2 separate regions of the Homo sapiens genome follow, and region 2 is linked to region 1. The links come from fine-mapping of genetic effects on gene expression. Tissue or cell type: whole blood. Region 1 holds a variant in brackets; the other region holds the start of a gene. All regions are shown on one strand. Distances are between the middles of the regions.

Region 1 (8,000 bases):
ATATACTATAAATAAACACAAGTCTAGTCAATTAAAAAAAATTTAAGTAGTTTTTTAAAAATAAGCTTATAAGTAAGTGGTCCCAATTGATTCAGCTGTTCAGTGATATCTTTAAGAATTTATTTATTCTTAAATAAATATTTTTTGAGTGCCTACTTTGCATTTATTCCATTTATTTATTAATATTCATTACCTGTTATTAATATTAGTATTTATTCTTCTGTGGATATAAAAAATCTGCTCCATCACTGAAAGGGAGGATTAAGACCTAAAAATATATGGGGTTAATGAACATGCCACTGAATCCTGTATTATCCTTGCTAAATATTCATGCTTTATGTTTCGACTCCTTTAAGTTGCAAAATAATTTATAGACACCATAACTCCACTTATGATGTGGACCATGAGCACAATCAAGCTTCATCAACAACTTTTCTGAATGCTTTTTTTTTCCTAATGTAGGTGACAGATCATGCAGATGGTAAATATGTCGTTGCCCAATTCCATGAATGGCAGGCTGGAATTGGACTGATCCTTTCTCGAGCCAGGAAACTTCCTATTGCCACAATATTTACAACCCACGCTACACTACTTGGGAGGTATCTCTGTGCAGCAAATATTGATTTCTACAACCATCTTGATAAGGTAAATATTCCTTCCTCCCTCCCTCTTACTCACCCTTCTTTCAGATTGCTGAAGCTGAAAGATAAGTATTGATCTGTACATTTCATCTGCCAACCAGATGGCAGAAATGCCCTTTTAGCTAATCAATATTCATGACAAAGCTTCCCTTGGGTTGAAAGACAGCTCATATAGTTCAACTTTGTTCAGAGTACACTAGAGTATAGAGGTGAGAGGCCTGATTTCTGTCCCACTTTGGAACAATAGTTCCAGAGGGATATGGTAGGAGTAAAGACATGGTGTAGGTGCAAGGTTGGGCCCTTGTTCTAGCCTAAGGCTATGGAAGCGCTGTGAACACCCTGGATCCACATGCAGCTCTGAGTGGCAGGTAGATAATTGAGATTTGAGACATACAAACTTGCACTATGAGACTTACTTCCTCTATTTCTTCTATCCTCCAAGTAAACAATTGATTAAAAGCCACATTATAGGTTGATAGGTTCAGTTTTCCCTGTAACTTTGCAATGCACAGGGGGCATTTTTGTGGGATCAAGTAAAACAGAAGTTATTGCAAACAGGGATATGGGTCCTTGGTGAACAAGAAGTTATTTTTGCTCATCTTAGCAGGTTACCTGAGTCTATGACCTGCCAAAGTCATTCAGTTTTGATTTATTTCTTCTATTTTTCATGTCAATTTAGATTAATGAAAGTATATATTTTATATCATCATGTTAATAATATTAACAAAATGTTTGAGTAGTATAAATTCAGAGGTTTTGCAGATTTGGTGTCTATATTAACAATCAAATCTATTTAGTACTCTAGGGTTCAGTTTTGCTATCAGGAAAATTAGGAAGTTAGAAAGTTGATTTTTAAAAATTTCCCAGCTTAAAGAGTTCTAGGATTCTATAAAATAGAATGTGTATGTGTGTGTAATACACAAATAATACTCAAATAATGCCACTGAAAAGTTATACTACTGTCTCAAAGACACTTAGAGCGCAAGAACGTTCTTTCTGAAAAACTTTAACATCTGTAAAGCAATGAGTGGTCCTGATGAGCCCTTCCCTATAAAAAGGTCAGCCTAATTTAAAGGTCAAACTAGAAACACAAGCTGTACATTTAAAATAAAATCACCAAGGAATTCAGAAAGCCTGGGGATCTGGGAGGTTCTTAGCGGTATATAGTAATGGTGGACTAATAAGGGCAAACCAGTGATCTGTGATAAGCTGGTAAGCTCAACAACCATGCTTCCTGGAGAGGAGTGCACTTTGACTTCAGTGAAGGAGAAAATATTAGAGTGGCAGATTGAATATTTCACTTCAGAATTCTTGAATCTTGTATAGTAATAATTAATTTTAAAAGCTACTAATAATATACATAGGATATTTTTCTTTGGTTTTAAGGAAGAAATGCATTATAGTATATAGTTATATATTACAATTTTACCCTTTTGATGAAAGGGCAGTATTTTTCATACTGTCTTTAGATATAATCACACATCTCTCTAGTTTAAAGCCCTTCACTGGTTGAGATACTTAAGTTTAGTCAGATCCCTGCCCATCTTTCTAGTAAAATGTTCTATCTAGCAAAATGACTAGTAGACAACAAGCAGTCAAGAACTAGCTTTTGGGTTAAATTCATAGTCATTTTACACAGCAGAAGCCCCCATGCTCACACTAAATTTAGAATTTGGGTGACACATAAGAATACCAAATTATATACATGAAAGGTTTTTAAAATTTCAGTATAAGGAAGAAGTCATAGTTTAATCTTTGATGCAGGAACCAGGATCAGCTTCAGTAAATTCTGACTCAGACAAATGAAAATAGGGCAAATATGAGAACAAGAATAAGATAATTAAACTTTTGTAAAATCAGAAAGATTAGAACGATTTTACTCAAATTACTGCTAACTGAAAACAATTTTTGTTAGTAGCCAATTACAAAAACTCTAACGCTGGTTTAAGTTTTTAGTAAAATTCATTATTTAAAATAAGATTTTAACCATTTTCAGCCAGCGTATGAAATTTCTGAGAATATGTCTCCAAATTCATTTTTTAAAGTCCAATCATTGATCAATTATCCTCTCGACTCTAATGACTACATAATAAATTCTTTTTTTTCCTCTAAAGCCTTTAGTTTTCTTGTTTTGCCCCCCGCCCCACCCCCCCTCCCATTTTATGTTGTTTGTTTGTTTTTGTTTTTGACGCGGAGTCTTGCTCTGTCGCCAGGCTAGAGTGCCGTAGCGTGATCTCGGCTCACTGCAACCTCCACCTCCCGGGTTCAAGCGATTCCCCTGCCTCAGCCTCCTGAGTAGGTGGGACTACAGGCACGCACAACCACAGCCAGCTAATTTTTTGTATTTTTAGTAGAGACGAGTTTTCACCATATTGGCCAGGATCGCCTCGATCTCCTGAGCTCGTCATCCGCCCGCCTCAGCCTCCCAAAGTGCTGGGATTACAGGCGTGAGCCACCACTCCCGGCCTTTTTTTTCTTAATTGTAGCAGAATTTCCTAGATGGAAATCTGAGGACAGTGCCGTTTGGGATTGGAAAATGGGGAAGGAAGCCATGGACAATTATTTGGTGGATTTAAACTCTTTCTTCTGATCAAGCTTTGAGCTAGTCAACTTCAATTACAGGGTTATCCACATGTGTCACTGGACTGTGTTTTATTGATTAATATGTACTTTACCCATTTTTTGTTTTTCTATACACATTATCCAGAATTCAATAAAAAACTATGAGATATATTAAAATGCAAGAAAGTAAAAACCCATTGTCAGAAAGACCAGGTCCAGATATGTCCTGTGTTGGAATTATTGTACAGAGATTTTAAGATATAATCATAAATATGTGGAAGAATGGACAACATGTGTAAACGGATAAGGTTTCTGTAAAGCCACAGGAGTGGCCACG[C/T]GTACTACAGACCTAAAAGATAAGTGTGCCCCATGGGAGGAGGGAAAGGCAGAAGCATGCACACCCACCCGACTTCCCCAAGGCCTCTCACGGGGTCTCCAGGCTCTTGCTATCCTGCCTCTGTATTTGTGCATACTCAGCCTGCTCATTTAGAAAATCTATCTTCCCATCTCTAAATGTCCAAATGTTAAATGCTGTCTTATCTGTGACATGTGATTCTCTACAACAATAATAATAATTAATAATAACAATGGCTAAATTTATTGAGCACTTTCCATATACCAGGCACTTTTCTAAACATTTGACATTTGTTGTCTCATTTGAAATTCACAAAATACTCAATGGGATAGAAAACATTCTTTACTTCTTTCCAGAGTTATTTTTCTTAAACACTGGCTCTGTCTTTACCACACCTCTAAATAAACACTTTCAGAGTGGCTTTTCTTGTTTACAGGACAAAGGCAAAATTCCTAGGCTCATCTTCAGGGATTTCAGTGATCTGGCCCTATTGTATCCGACCAGCCTCTGTCTCTTACATTCTACATCCAGTGCTACAGTCACATCAGATGTCCTGCTATTTTCTGCACATGCCATAGCATTTTCTATACTTGTTCTTTAGGGCAGCTAGCATTTCAGCTAAAAATAACTTTCCCAGAATTAAACTTTCATATCCTGGTCCAAATGCCATTTTATTCATCCAACCAATTTGGAGATAGAAAGATGAATAAGTCTTCGTCTTTGCACTTGAAAGTCTTACATTTGTAGAGTTGATACTGACTACGCTTACTGCGTAGTATGAGATAATTTTGCCTACCTTCAGCCAGAGTGAATCAGTGCTGCTTTGATCCTATAACTTATTCAGACACATACTCATTTCATTTCTACCTGTTTTTAATCCATTTTCCATTAATTTATAAGTTTCTTAAAGTTAATAGATACACATAAATTGCTCAAAAAAGTTGATTAAATGAGAGATTTGGTTTCATTAATTAGGCTGGCCACATAGAGCTTTTAAGAAAACTTCTGCTGATCCAAGCATGTCATATACAACCTGATTCAAACATTTTCAGAGAGATGATTCCAAATATTACAGTCATGAAAGAATGCTCTAGGAGTTTTCTTGTTCTAATCATGAGATTCCTCTAATGGGTCTCTTTTTAGTATTTTTCTCTATATGATGCCATAATTATTGGGACTAACTTCTTGATAGAGTTGAAGTCTCAATGATATAAAAACAGATGAATACAAGACTGTATTCATTAATCAGTCAGGCTGATTAAGGATCAAATTAGGGTTCTACCAAGATTCTTAATAGCAATGTGACCTTCGACAAGTTTCTTGACCTCTAAAAGGTTCAATTTCCTTCTCCATAAAATGAAGGCAAAATATGTGTCTCAGTAGTTTATAAGAATTAAATATGTTATTGTGCGTAGTGGAGTGCCTGACACTAGTGCTGAAGAGCTACTAAAAATCTTCACTATGAAAAGCACCCTACTTACATAATGTCAGAAACTTTACATATTCTTTTTTTCTTAGACACTGCTAGTTTCATATGGAGCTGCGTGAGACACTACATTCAGTAACTAAGTGAAATGGCAAAAGCCCACACTGTTGCCAGTTATTTAAGTGATTGTTGGGAATTTGACTTTTTTTAAGTTAAGCTACCCAGAAGCATAGATAATTGCATAATCTAGCACAATATCTAACTAGACTAACTATACACTCTTTGCAATTATAAAGGGGAAGTTCTATAACCAAGGAAAAGCGTTTGTCTTTCTCTTTTTCAGGTTCCCTTTCAGTGAATTAAGCATTATAATAATTATTCTTATTTTCGATGTCAACTTTAATGTCAACTTTGTTTCATTGTTTATGGGAAAATATATAAAAGACTTTGGAGAAAGGCATTAGCTCAGTATTCCAAGATGTAGAATAAGTAAAAGTGTAATTAAAATGTCAAAAATTCAAGAATTCTATGTGATTACAGTAAGGTAGAAACATCATTTACTTAGGGAGTTAAACTGCAGTTTAGAGGGAGAAATGGAGTAAACAATGTCTTTTAAAGTGTAATTCCTTATGTATATTGTAGTAATGGGTTTAATTCAAGTTTTTATTACTTTTTTGTGGTCATAAATTTTTACACAGCCTTGAGGTAAGCCACTTGGTGAAATGTGTGATTTTGTTTAGCTTGTGTAGAAGGGCCATTGTTAGCAAATGTGTGTTTTATTTTTGTTTCTAACAGTTTAACATTGACAAAGAGGCTGGGGAAAGGCAGATTTACCACCGGTACTGCATGGAGCGAGCTTCCGTTCATTGCGCTCACGTGTTCACCACGGTTTCTGAAATAACAGCAATAGAAGCTGAACATATGCTGAAGAGAAAGCCTGGTAATTATTATCCCTGGATCACCTATCTTTCAGTTCCGAATGATGTTACACTATGAGGATTTTGTTTTCCATCGTGAAGTAGTAGTTTGAGGAAAAATTGCATTCAGTTACCACGCAGCTCTTTTTATGTATTTTAATTCTCAATTTCAGTAGGTTTGCAGGGAAGCCAACTCAAAGCTATATCTGGAACATGGCTAAGTGTTCAATCTGTGCTTGTTGAATAAATGAGCTATGCTTGAAATAACCTTGGTATGACCTGGGTTGTCATAATGAGTCGGTATGTGTAAGGAAGTTCGGTTGACTCTTGTCTTTTGAGAAAATGAAAGCCAAGAAAACAGAAATTTGTGTGAGACTATCCCAGTCCTACATCTTGTAATATTGCCTCATTGGTGCTGTGTTGGTAGAAACGTTTTATATTACTTATCCCCAGATTCCTTGGAAATTTTTCCAGGAACTATCTACAGACCCAACCAGAGCTTGCAATGTGAAGAACTCATGCTCATAAGACATGGCCCTGTCACCCGGCCACGGCTGATTGGCCCAAAGGAAGACATCTGACATAAGCTGGGCCAATCAGAATGCTCCCATTCAAACGAGTCTCTCAATGCACTGTCATACAATGAAACACTACCAATAACTCAAAGCTATTGGTAGTGTTCATTTTTCTACTTTGTTGCACTGGATGCAAAGAAGATTAAACTACACTGAATTGTTATAAGAAGCAAAAACAGACTGAGAGAGAGAACTAGAGGCTCTCCACAGTGATTTCGACCCCTTTTTCTTTTTTTTTTTTGAGATGGAGTCTTGCTCCATTGCCCAGGCTGGAGTGCAGTGGCGTGATCTCAGCTCACTGCAGCTTCTGCCTCCCGGGTTCAAGCAATTCTCTGCCTCAGCCTCTCGAGTAGCTGGGATTACAGGCACCTGCCACCACGCCCAGCTAATTTTTGTATTTTTAGTAGAGACGGGGTTTCACTATCTTGGCCAGGCTGGTCTTGAACTCCTGACCTCGTGATCCACCCGCCTTGGCCTCCCAAAGTGCTGGGATTACATGTGTGAGCTACCGCGGCCAGCCAGTTTTGACCACTTTTAAAAATCATTCCTAAGGCTCAGCTAAATATTTGCCATGAGACACTCCGGCATCCTATTAATAAATTCCTTGTTATTATACTTAAGCCAGCATTAGTAGGTTTATATTACTTGCAACGAAATCATCCTAATTAATATATCCTCCTTGCTTAATTTCTGTGGTCTTGTCTCTAGTTGTCCTTCTTTCAGATAGCAGAATGTGTAGAAGAGGTATTTCAAGGTGCTAGGTTAAAAAAAAAAAAAAAAACAAGATAGAACAAGAACCCAACTAATTTGAATAGTGGCAGCATTAAGAACCTATAGTAGCCTTTTTTCTTTCCAAGGATTCTCTTGAATTCGCTTGGATTCTTACTCTCATTCTTCTTTTGGGAGTTTATTCCATCAATATGCTCATTTCTCTCTTGGATCTTCCTTTTTCCTGTCTACAGTTATCTTTCTCTGAGCTCACAAAAATACTTTCTTTGTTTTTGCCTATTCTAAAATGAAAATTTCTCTTGAGGTTTCTACCCTGCCAAATATCATACCATCTCCTCCTTTCTCCTGCTGCCAAATATCTTATAAGAGTAAACCATAATTGCTAGGTTCACTTACTCATTAGCCCCTGGGACTCTGGCTTCCGACCTCCAACTCTGGCCTAAAATTGTGTTTCCAAAAATCATCGAATTCAGGGTCATCTAATGTTTTTTATTTTTCTTTATATTCTCTAGCATTTAAAGGCGGTGAACATCTGTTTCCATTATTTTTCATGACACTGCACATTCTACTTTCTTTCCAGTATAATCTTTTCTGGTGCCTCTAATCATTTTTCTACTTTCTTTTACTTTTCAAAGTGGACATTCTCCAAGATTCTATTCTAGGTCCTGCTTTCTCTATATACTATTTTCTTAAATTTTTGTTTTCTTAAGAATATAGCTACAGAGTAGTGGTCAAAGCATGAGCTTTTTGCCAAACTGCCTGTATTCAGTACCAAAAATGATTTTATGTTGAGTA
Region 2 (8,134 bases), 45 kb after region 1:
TCTCTTAACTTTGCAGTTTACTTTCTTGTATCACATTCTGTAAACAAAGTTTCAGATATGGAATAGCAGCAGCAAGCTGTGTCACTGGGCAGGAGGTGGGGGGAAGTCCTGTGACACACTGTTTAATGTCCCCTGAGTTCTGTATTCTTACTAACCATTCTGCTATAGTAACCATTCTGATAGTTTCCATCCCTGGAAAGTTTCAAGAGGAGCGGGATCAGTAGCATCAGCTACTGAATGAATTCTGGGATACTCTCTTATTCTGATTTTCCTCTTACCTTTCTGCTTGCTCCTTTTAATGTCCCTTCACTGGTACTATTTCCCCCCATTTCCCTTGATTTTTGGGTGTTTTATTGTCTTCCCTTTTCCCACTATATCTAAGCCCTAGAAGGTATCTCCATTCTCATGATTTCAACCTTTATTAACGGGCTCTGAAGTTCCTGTTTTCAAACCTGACCAATCATCAGAATAATGTGGAAGAACTTCTTAAGGACAGAGATTCTTGGGCCTCACTCAAGCAGTACAGAATTAGAATTTCTGGGCCTAAGGCCAAGAAATTCTGGGGGAGGGGTGTTGCACTCAACACAGAATCCCGAAAGTAAGCAAAGCTGTTCTGTTATGCAGGTGAAAGAGGCCACTATGCTAGTACCTTCTGGTGATTTCTGAAGGGACGCCAGTAAGATGGTTGCTGCCTCCGGAATAGTTAGTAGTTGGGGATTTGGGCTTCGTCTTTCTGCAGAAACAAAAATGTATACAGATTCTCTTAGCATTTATATATTGATGTAGATAAGTCCTATTCTAACATGCAGCAATACTAGAAAAACCTCTATGAAATAGATTTTGACCCCTCAACAAAGGACTACTTACACAGAAGACTAATTTTTTAACATGTCACAATTGCCTTGGAAATGACTTACAATTGGTTATGTCAAGTTTACAAACAGGGTATGGAAGAGAATGTTAAACTATATGCCAAAGAGAATTTTAGATAATAATTTAACCTTTGCGGCCAAATATAAGGTAATTATTTGACTGAAGGAGTATCTGCTAAGAACTCAAAGTTATTTCAAATCTAAGTTGAAAAAAGACAAATTGTTCTGATTCAGCACAAAACATGATTTCTAATTTGGGGCAACTGAAGTTGAGAAACAAATCTTAACCTCATAAAATAAATAAGCTCAATTACACAGCATGTTTGAAGAGCCTAAACAAAAATTTAAGCACCTACTATGTGTTCAACAGTGTTTGGTATTTTTCCAAGTAAGTATACTTTTTAATTTTAGCATTTCAATCTTTACAATTTCATCAAATTGTATTGTTATTTGTTAATACAATACGATGGAAAGGTTTATCATGAAAAAGAACAGTCCCCGGTCCCATCCTTAACTGCCCGCATGTTACTCTTTTGATTTTGAACCTTTGATAGTTCTTTCTAGTCAAACAAAAGCATACATTTGAAGTTCCTAGGTAAGTTCTTATTTTAATAATAACAGCGTTTAAGAGGAGGCTGAGTAAAGTTCCTGCACAAACGCGCAGATACATTTCTAGAAGCATTTGCATAGTTCTTCCTATCTCGCCTTACCCCTCTGAGCTGCACCTCAGGTCCTAACTCCCTGGGGACCTCTGCACACCCTGGCAGCCAGAGGGCTGGCTGAACAGCCGCAAGCCAATAAGGCTTGGGGAGCCGCAGCGCCAGCCTGGGCCGCCCTTGCCACCATTGGCGCGGGGCTGGACGCGCGAGCTCCCAGCTCCGGCGCTCGGCATCCAGCTGCTGCTGCTGCCAACCCGGGCTGCCCTCGGGCGGACTGTATCTGAGGGCGCCTCAGAGCCGCGTCTTTCCGGTGAGGAGACGCTTTCTTTCGGCACCAGCGCGGAGCAAGCCCTGCCCGCCCCATCCTATTCCAAAAGCGCAGGACTAGCGCCCTTGCACCCTTGGTCACTCACCCGGCAGTGGCCGGTCGGAGAGGTCCTTTCTCCGGCTCTGGTCGGAGATGAAGCGGCGACCCTCTGCAAAAACGAGACCTGGGGCTCAGCGACAGCCTGGCCCGGGACAACCCGGGCTTAAACCTCAGCTCCTCCCGGCACAGCGCAGTCCCCGGGCGTGGGGAGGGGGCAGGTTGCTCCAGGATAGGGTCGCGCGGGGCTGCCGAGTTTCCAGCGCTCCCAGCGCAACCCCGGGCTGAGCCAGGGGCCCTGGAGCTCTGGAGGAAAGCCCCGCGCCTGACCGGACGCCGCAAGGGCGCTTTGGAGCGGAGGTCGGGTTACTGAGATATTTCCCAGGCAACCCGAGTCCCCATTTGGACCAAGAGAAGCAACCCTCCAGTTTTGGATGGAGAATTTCTAATAAGGATGGAGGATTTCCAATAATCAGGGACTCTTCCCCTCTCCCACCCCTCCCTCACCTACCGGTCTCTTTGATGGCCTCGATGATTTAAGGGAATAAACTCGACATTATTCTCTCTCCATAACTCTCCATCTATCTGTTCCTGACTCCTAGGGGTCTTCCATTATTGTAGGAAGAGCGAAATATTTGGAACTTACGTGCCCCTTTCAGGTAGAGCATAGCTTGAGGAGTCCAGTTCCTTCTCTCCAACAGTCTCTATAGCCCGGGGGAAGGGAAGAGCAGTTAATAAAACATTGCAGCTCAGTCCTCTATTACAGCAAAATAAAGGAAAAAGAAGAGAATAAAACAAGAAGGAAGAAAGAAAGAGCAGAGTGGACACACAGTGCGCATTGTTTTAAAATTTTTTATTTTGCATTTGATTACCTGCGGAGCGCAGCTGGAGTTTCCCAGGAAAACAAACACCAGGAAAAGAGCCAAGGTTGTTGCTGCCAGACTTCTGAGTCCCTATATGAAGCGATCAACCAGAAAGGGTCATTTCTGTGCCAATAGGATCTTCTGCTTCCTTCCTTGACGCCTGGACAATTATAAACCCCCTTACTTCTCGCAATATTCTGTTTTAATACTCAGTTTTCTGGAGGTGTTTCCCTTCTACCTTCTAGTTAATTCACAAAGAGTCCACTTGAAAAAACGTATTTAGAAACATATTATTTGTATTACTTCACCCAAATGAAGAATAAGTAAATACGTGAATTTTTTTCTTAGTAAAATCAAATGATTCTGTTATTCTAAAGGCGTATCGTTCAAATATCCTTTAAACTCTAAAATCCTTATTAAACATGAAATAGGTAAAATGCTATAAAACGTTTTAAAAAATAGCTAAGAAGTCTCAAGTTAATAAAGCCTTTACTTACCTTCATGTTCTGCGTCTTTTCAGAACCCTGAAATAACTATAACTTTATCTGTGAGTTTTCGACTCTTGCTCTGAAATTGGAGCTTTTAAAATCTTGGTGTTAAGGGCACCTCCCCATCTGGAGTAGAGTTTGGGAGTCCACAGGGACATCTTGTCAGTCTTCAAGCAAGATTGAGAATCTGATGACTCCTCCAGGGAGCTTCATTGCAGGAAGTAGAGGAATGATTGATGGGCAGAAATTATTTGTTTAAATACTGATTGCATCACCCAGGAGGCCTTCAGAATGTGTCAGCATCATTGGCCTTGCTTTTCCTACTAGCTGCCCAAAGTAACATGTTATTATTATTATTAATGAAAACAATCAATAGTCCAAGGCAGAATCAAAAGTAAAAGAATAAATCAGAAAACTTTTCTTGGGTAACTAGCCATCAGTCTATCACTGATGGCTAAAGATGTATGAAAAGGTTTGGGAATCTCAATGGAATTTGACATCAGTCATTCACTTAATTATCAATTCATTCTGTTGTTTAGCAAATATTTATTGAGTGCCTATGAGACACACAATCCTTGTATTTCAAGGGACACAGCCATGCACTGAAAAGACATGGTCTCTGCTTTGATCTAAGTTACCTACTAGTTAAGGTACACAGTAAACTGATGAATAGATAAATAAGACACAGTAGTTACCCCTTAATCGTAGGTGTGTGTGGGGTGGAGGAGCATGTTTCAAGACCCACAGTGGATGCCTGAAACCACTGATACGTATATGCCTTATTATACTATTTTTTTTTATCTGTTCACCAAGATGGTTACTAACTGATTAATGGGAGAGTGGTGTTTACATATGGACATGCTGGACAAAAAGATGGTTCATGTCTTGGGTGGGCTGGAGCTGGACAGTGAGAGATTTCAACACCCTACTCAGATTTAAAGCTCACAATTTAAACTTATTAATTCTGGAATTTCCCATTTAATATTTTCAGACTGTAGTTGACCATGGGTAACTGAAACCATGGAAAGTGAAACCGTGGATAAGCAGGGACTACTGTAACTACAGAATGTTTTAAATTGTTAAGTAAAAGTAAGCAAGGTGATGTGATAGGATAAGTGGTGGGCTACTTTAGGGAAGGTTAAAAACAGAGGGTAGTCTTGAAGGATAAGGTGAAGTAATGGGAGAAGCTGGGCAGGAATTAGTATTCCAGGCATTCTCAATAGAAGAAAGAAAAGCAAAATCTGTGGACAGCAAAGAGCATGACTTGCTTGGGGACTAGGAAAGAGGCCAATGGAGGCAGCGTTGTGTGGGTGAACGGGGGAGGTGCTTTGAAATGAGATTGGAGAAGAAGAAATGGGCCAGTTGATGTGGAAATACGATTATAAGCAATAGATGATGATGGCTTACACTGGGATGGTACACACAGGGAAAGAAGAGCTGTAAATGAATTTGGAATACATGTTGTGGAGGTAGAAAATATAGAACTTGTATATAAAAGGGATATGAAAGTGTGAGAAAAATAAATCAAGGATGATTCTTAGGTTTATGGATAAAACTGTGGGTAAATTATGAAGTAATTTACTGAAATTAGAGAAACTTCTTAAGAAGCAAGTTATGAGAGGGAAATTAACACTTGCCATATAGGCATATTAAAATTAAAATGTATATTAAAAATATCCAAGTACAAGTACAAAATAGAAGGTTAGAAATGCAAAACTTGATAGAGGTCAGCCAAGAGGTCACCAGCCTACAGATTTTCTTTTTGGTGGGGGGCAGAAATGATTAGCTTTAAGAATTTTAAGAATTCTAAGAATTTTACAACCAGTAAAGGGATGAGATTAAACACAACACTTAGGGAGTGAATAGGGCTAAAGAAGAGTGGCAGGGACAGAGCTATGAAAACAAACGCATAGAGAATGAGCAGAGGAAGAGCCAGAAAAGGAGGTTGAGGTAGAGTCAGAAAGAAAGGAGAAATTCCAGGGGACCCTGATATCATGGAAGCCAAGTGAAGATCCAGTAGTATTGGGAGGTCAAGCAACATTAGCTCCAAGAAACATCCACTGGATTTGGAATATGATGGTTTTGAGGATAGAAGCAAGATTGGAGTTGGTTGAATAGTGAATATGATATGATAAATTAAAGCCAAGAATAAACAATCTCTTTTACAGATGTCACAAAAGAAGGGAAAGGAAAAAATGAGAATTTTTTTTACTGTTATTATTATTGTTATTGTTATTTTAAAGACAGGGTCTCACTATGTTGTTCAGGCTGGGCTGAAACTCCTGTCCTCAACTGGTCCTCCCATGTCAGCCTCCCAAACCTCTGGGATTATAGGCATGCTTGGCCTGTGAAATCTTTTTTTTTTTTTTAAAAGATAAGATAGAAGATTTGTTATACTTTTTGGGAAACCTTTCATTTCTAGGAAATTCCTAAAATTCCCTGAATTATGAATTATGAAATTATGAATCTTTTTGGGAGGCAGAGTGTTTCTTCTATTGTACAAACTGAAAATGCCAGATAGTCAGTTTTCTAGCCTCCCTATCAGGGAGAATGTGGGCATATGACACGGGCTTCACCAATCAGATGAGCATGCTTAGATGGGGAATCTCATGCCAGGATGGAAGAAGTGCTCGGGTGAAGCAGGGGTTGTAGTAAGATTGAGTTTCTGGAGTAGTCTTAGCTACGGTGCTAGTGGCAAGTTCCAGCATCCAGTGCTGTAGCAGTGGTGATGCCAGCTGCAGTGTCCTTTTAATAAAATCTTTGTTTTGCCCAAATCAGCCATGTTTATTGGTTTCTGTTGATGTGACAACTAAGAAACAATTTGTAAGACATGTATATTGATGGGGATGATCAGTAGGGAAGGAGAAATTCATGATGTAGAAGAAAGGGAATATAACAGCAAAAGGAAATTCTTAGAAGGCAAGAGGGATAGGATTCCAAGTATATCAATATTCAGTTAAAAGATCTATATACATAGGCAGATATTGAACAAGGACCTGAGTATCCACCACATACTAAGTTACCATGAAAGAAAGAGATGGTCCCTCTCTTAGTCCATTCAAGCTGCTATAGCAAAATACAACAAACTGGGTAGCTTACTCAATGGAAATTCCTTACTCAACTCTGAAAGCTGGGAAGTCCAAGATCAAAGTCCAGTCAGCATGGTTGGGTTCTGGTGAGGGCCCTTTTCTGGGTTGCAGACTGTTGTCTTCTCTGCTGTGTTCTTACATGGGTGGGAGGGGAAAACAAACTCTTTGGAATGCTTTTATAAGGACATTAATCCCATTTATGAGGGCTCCACCCTTATGACCTAGTCATGTCCCAAAGGCCCTACCATCATATTGAGGTTTAGGATTTTAGCATATGAATTTTGGTAGGACACAAACATTTAGGTCATAGCAGTTCCTTCTCAGTTAGGGCAGTGGTTTTCAGGTATTAATGTGCATGGGAATCACCTGAGAATTTGTTAAAATGCAGATTCTGATTCAGTATACCTGGAGTGGGGCCTGAAATTCTGCATTTCTAATAGACTCCCAGGTGATGGTGATAGATGCTATTGACCCTTGGACATTTTGAGTAACAAAGATTTAGGGGTATAAGAAGTGACGAAAACTAAACCTCAGAGTTTGTGTGGCTGGAAGAATGGCTAGACAGAAATAGCAGGGACTCTGAGGAGAGAACCAGTAAGTTTCATTTGGGATTGAAGTTTAAAAGGCTCATGCTATCTACCTGCAAATACTTGGAAAAGAGATTGGAGTTTGGGCACTGATATTTAGACTTGACACTGATATGCAGACAGGAAAACTGAGGTTTGGTTAGTAAATGAGAATGGAATATAGAAAGTAGTATGTGAGTAGAAACTTGAGAACTATTTACTGTCTTCAAGGAAAACAGCAAAGCAGGAAAAAACTAGAGGCATTAGTGTAATGTTCTATTTCTACTGTCGTAGGAGAGGAGAAAGATAAAAACTGACTAAAAGGTTATCTGGATGCTATTTTAATAATGCTTCAAATGTGAGATTTTAGGATTTTCATTTCTAAGGATTGTAGCAATTTCCTTCAAAAAAGAGCGATAAAAGAAGTGAAATATGCTGTGTTTATATTTTAAATAGTCACACATGAAACCTGATTACTAGGTTACCTGAAAAATAAGTCAAATGCCTTTTTGTTCCCAAAACACAAAGGTTTTGGGAAGAGGAGCAGGAAAATGAATCACCAATAAAATGTGCTTTGAACTTACAATTTTAAGAATAAATAAATGTGCTTTGCTGATAATAGTTTAGCTAATGAATTCACAAGCAGATGTCTTACGTCAAAGCTGCCATTTTCAGTTTAATGTGCACAAAAGAAGGGAATGGTTTTGACATATTATCAATATTGCAGTCTTATCAAGAGTAACATGCTAGAATGTGTTACTTCTAAAAGGATTTCCAAAGGGCACTGAACCCCAATAGAATGTTTTTGTTAAATCACAAAGCTTTTAGGGTTTTTACAGGTCCAAAACAAGACATGGGTTAAGTTACAATATTTGGTATAAAACAAAACAAAACACACAACAACAAAAATCCAAGATAGGTAAAGCCCTTGAATTTTATTCTCCTGACAGTATGAGCAAGCAGTAGATGTTGAACAAATGGTCTTTTAAGCCTTTTTTAAAGGCACATTCAATGAAGACTGTTTTGAATTCATCACTGTTACCTGGATTCTTGTAGTCGACTGTAGAGTGCCCAGAACCTATTTAACCAGTGATCACCTGTCACTGTTTAAATGACATTCTTTCAAGGTCAGTGATTATTGTGTTCACAAGGAAAACAGCTGCTATCTTGGATAAGGTTATCTGGACAATATGGCTATTATGGTACAAAATGCCTAAATTACTTTTTGATGAC

Evidence for each region. PIP is the estimated chance that this variant, and not a neighbour inherited with it, causes the effect.
Region 2: SPX starts here. The variant in region 1 is fine-mapped to the expression of SPX in whole blood (INTERVAL, PIP above 0.99).

Annotation. Positions count from the first base shown.
Region 1 is chr12:21,566,789-21,574,788 of GRCh38, reverse strand. GYS2 (glycogen synthase 2) reads left to right here. Exons shown (of 16, transcript NM_021957.4): 4 at 463-645; 5 at 5,780-5,924. Among named protein-coding and RNA genes, the nearest start is that of GYS2, 34 kb to the left of the region's middle. The variant C/T (reference allele first, on the strand shown) is at 3,541.
Region 2 is chr12:21,521,600-21,529,733 of GRCh38, reverse strand. SPX (spexin hormone) reads right to left here and starts at 3,438. Exons shown (of 6, transcript NM_030572.4): 1 at 3,256-3,438; 2 at 2,768-2,848; 3 at 2,542-2,599; 4 at 1,945-2,007; 5 at 650-733. The coding sequence starts at 3,261.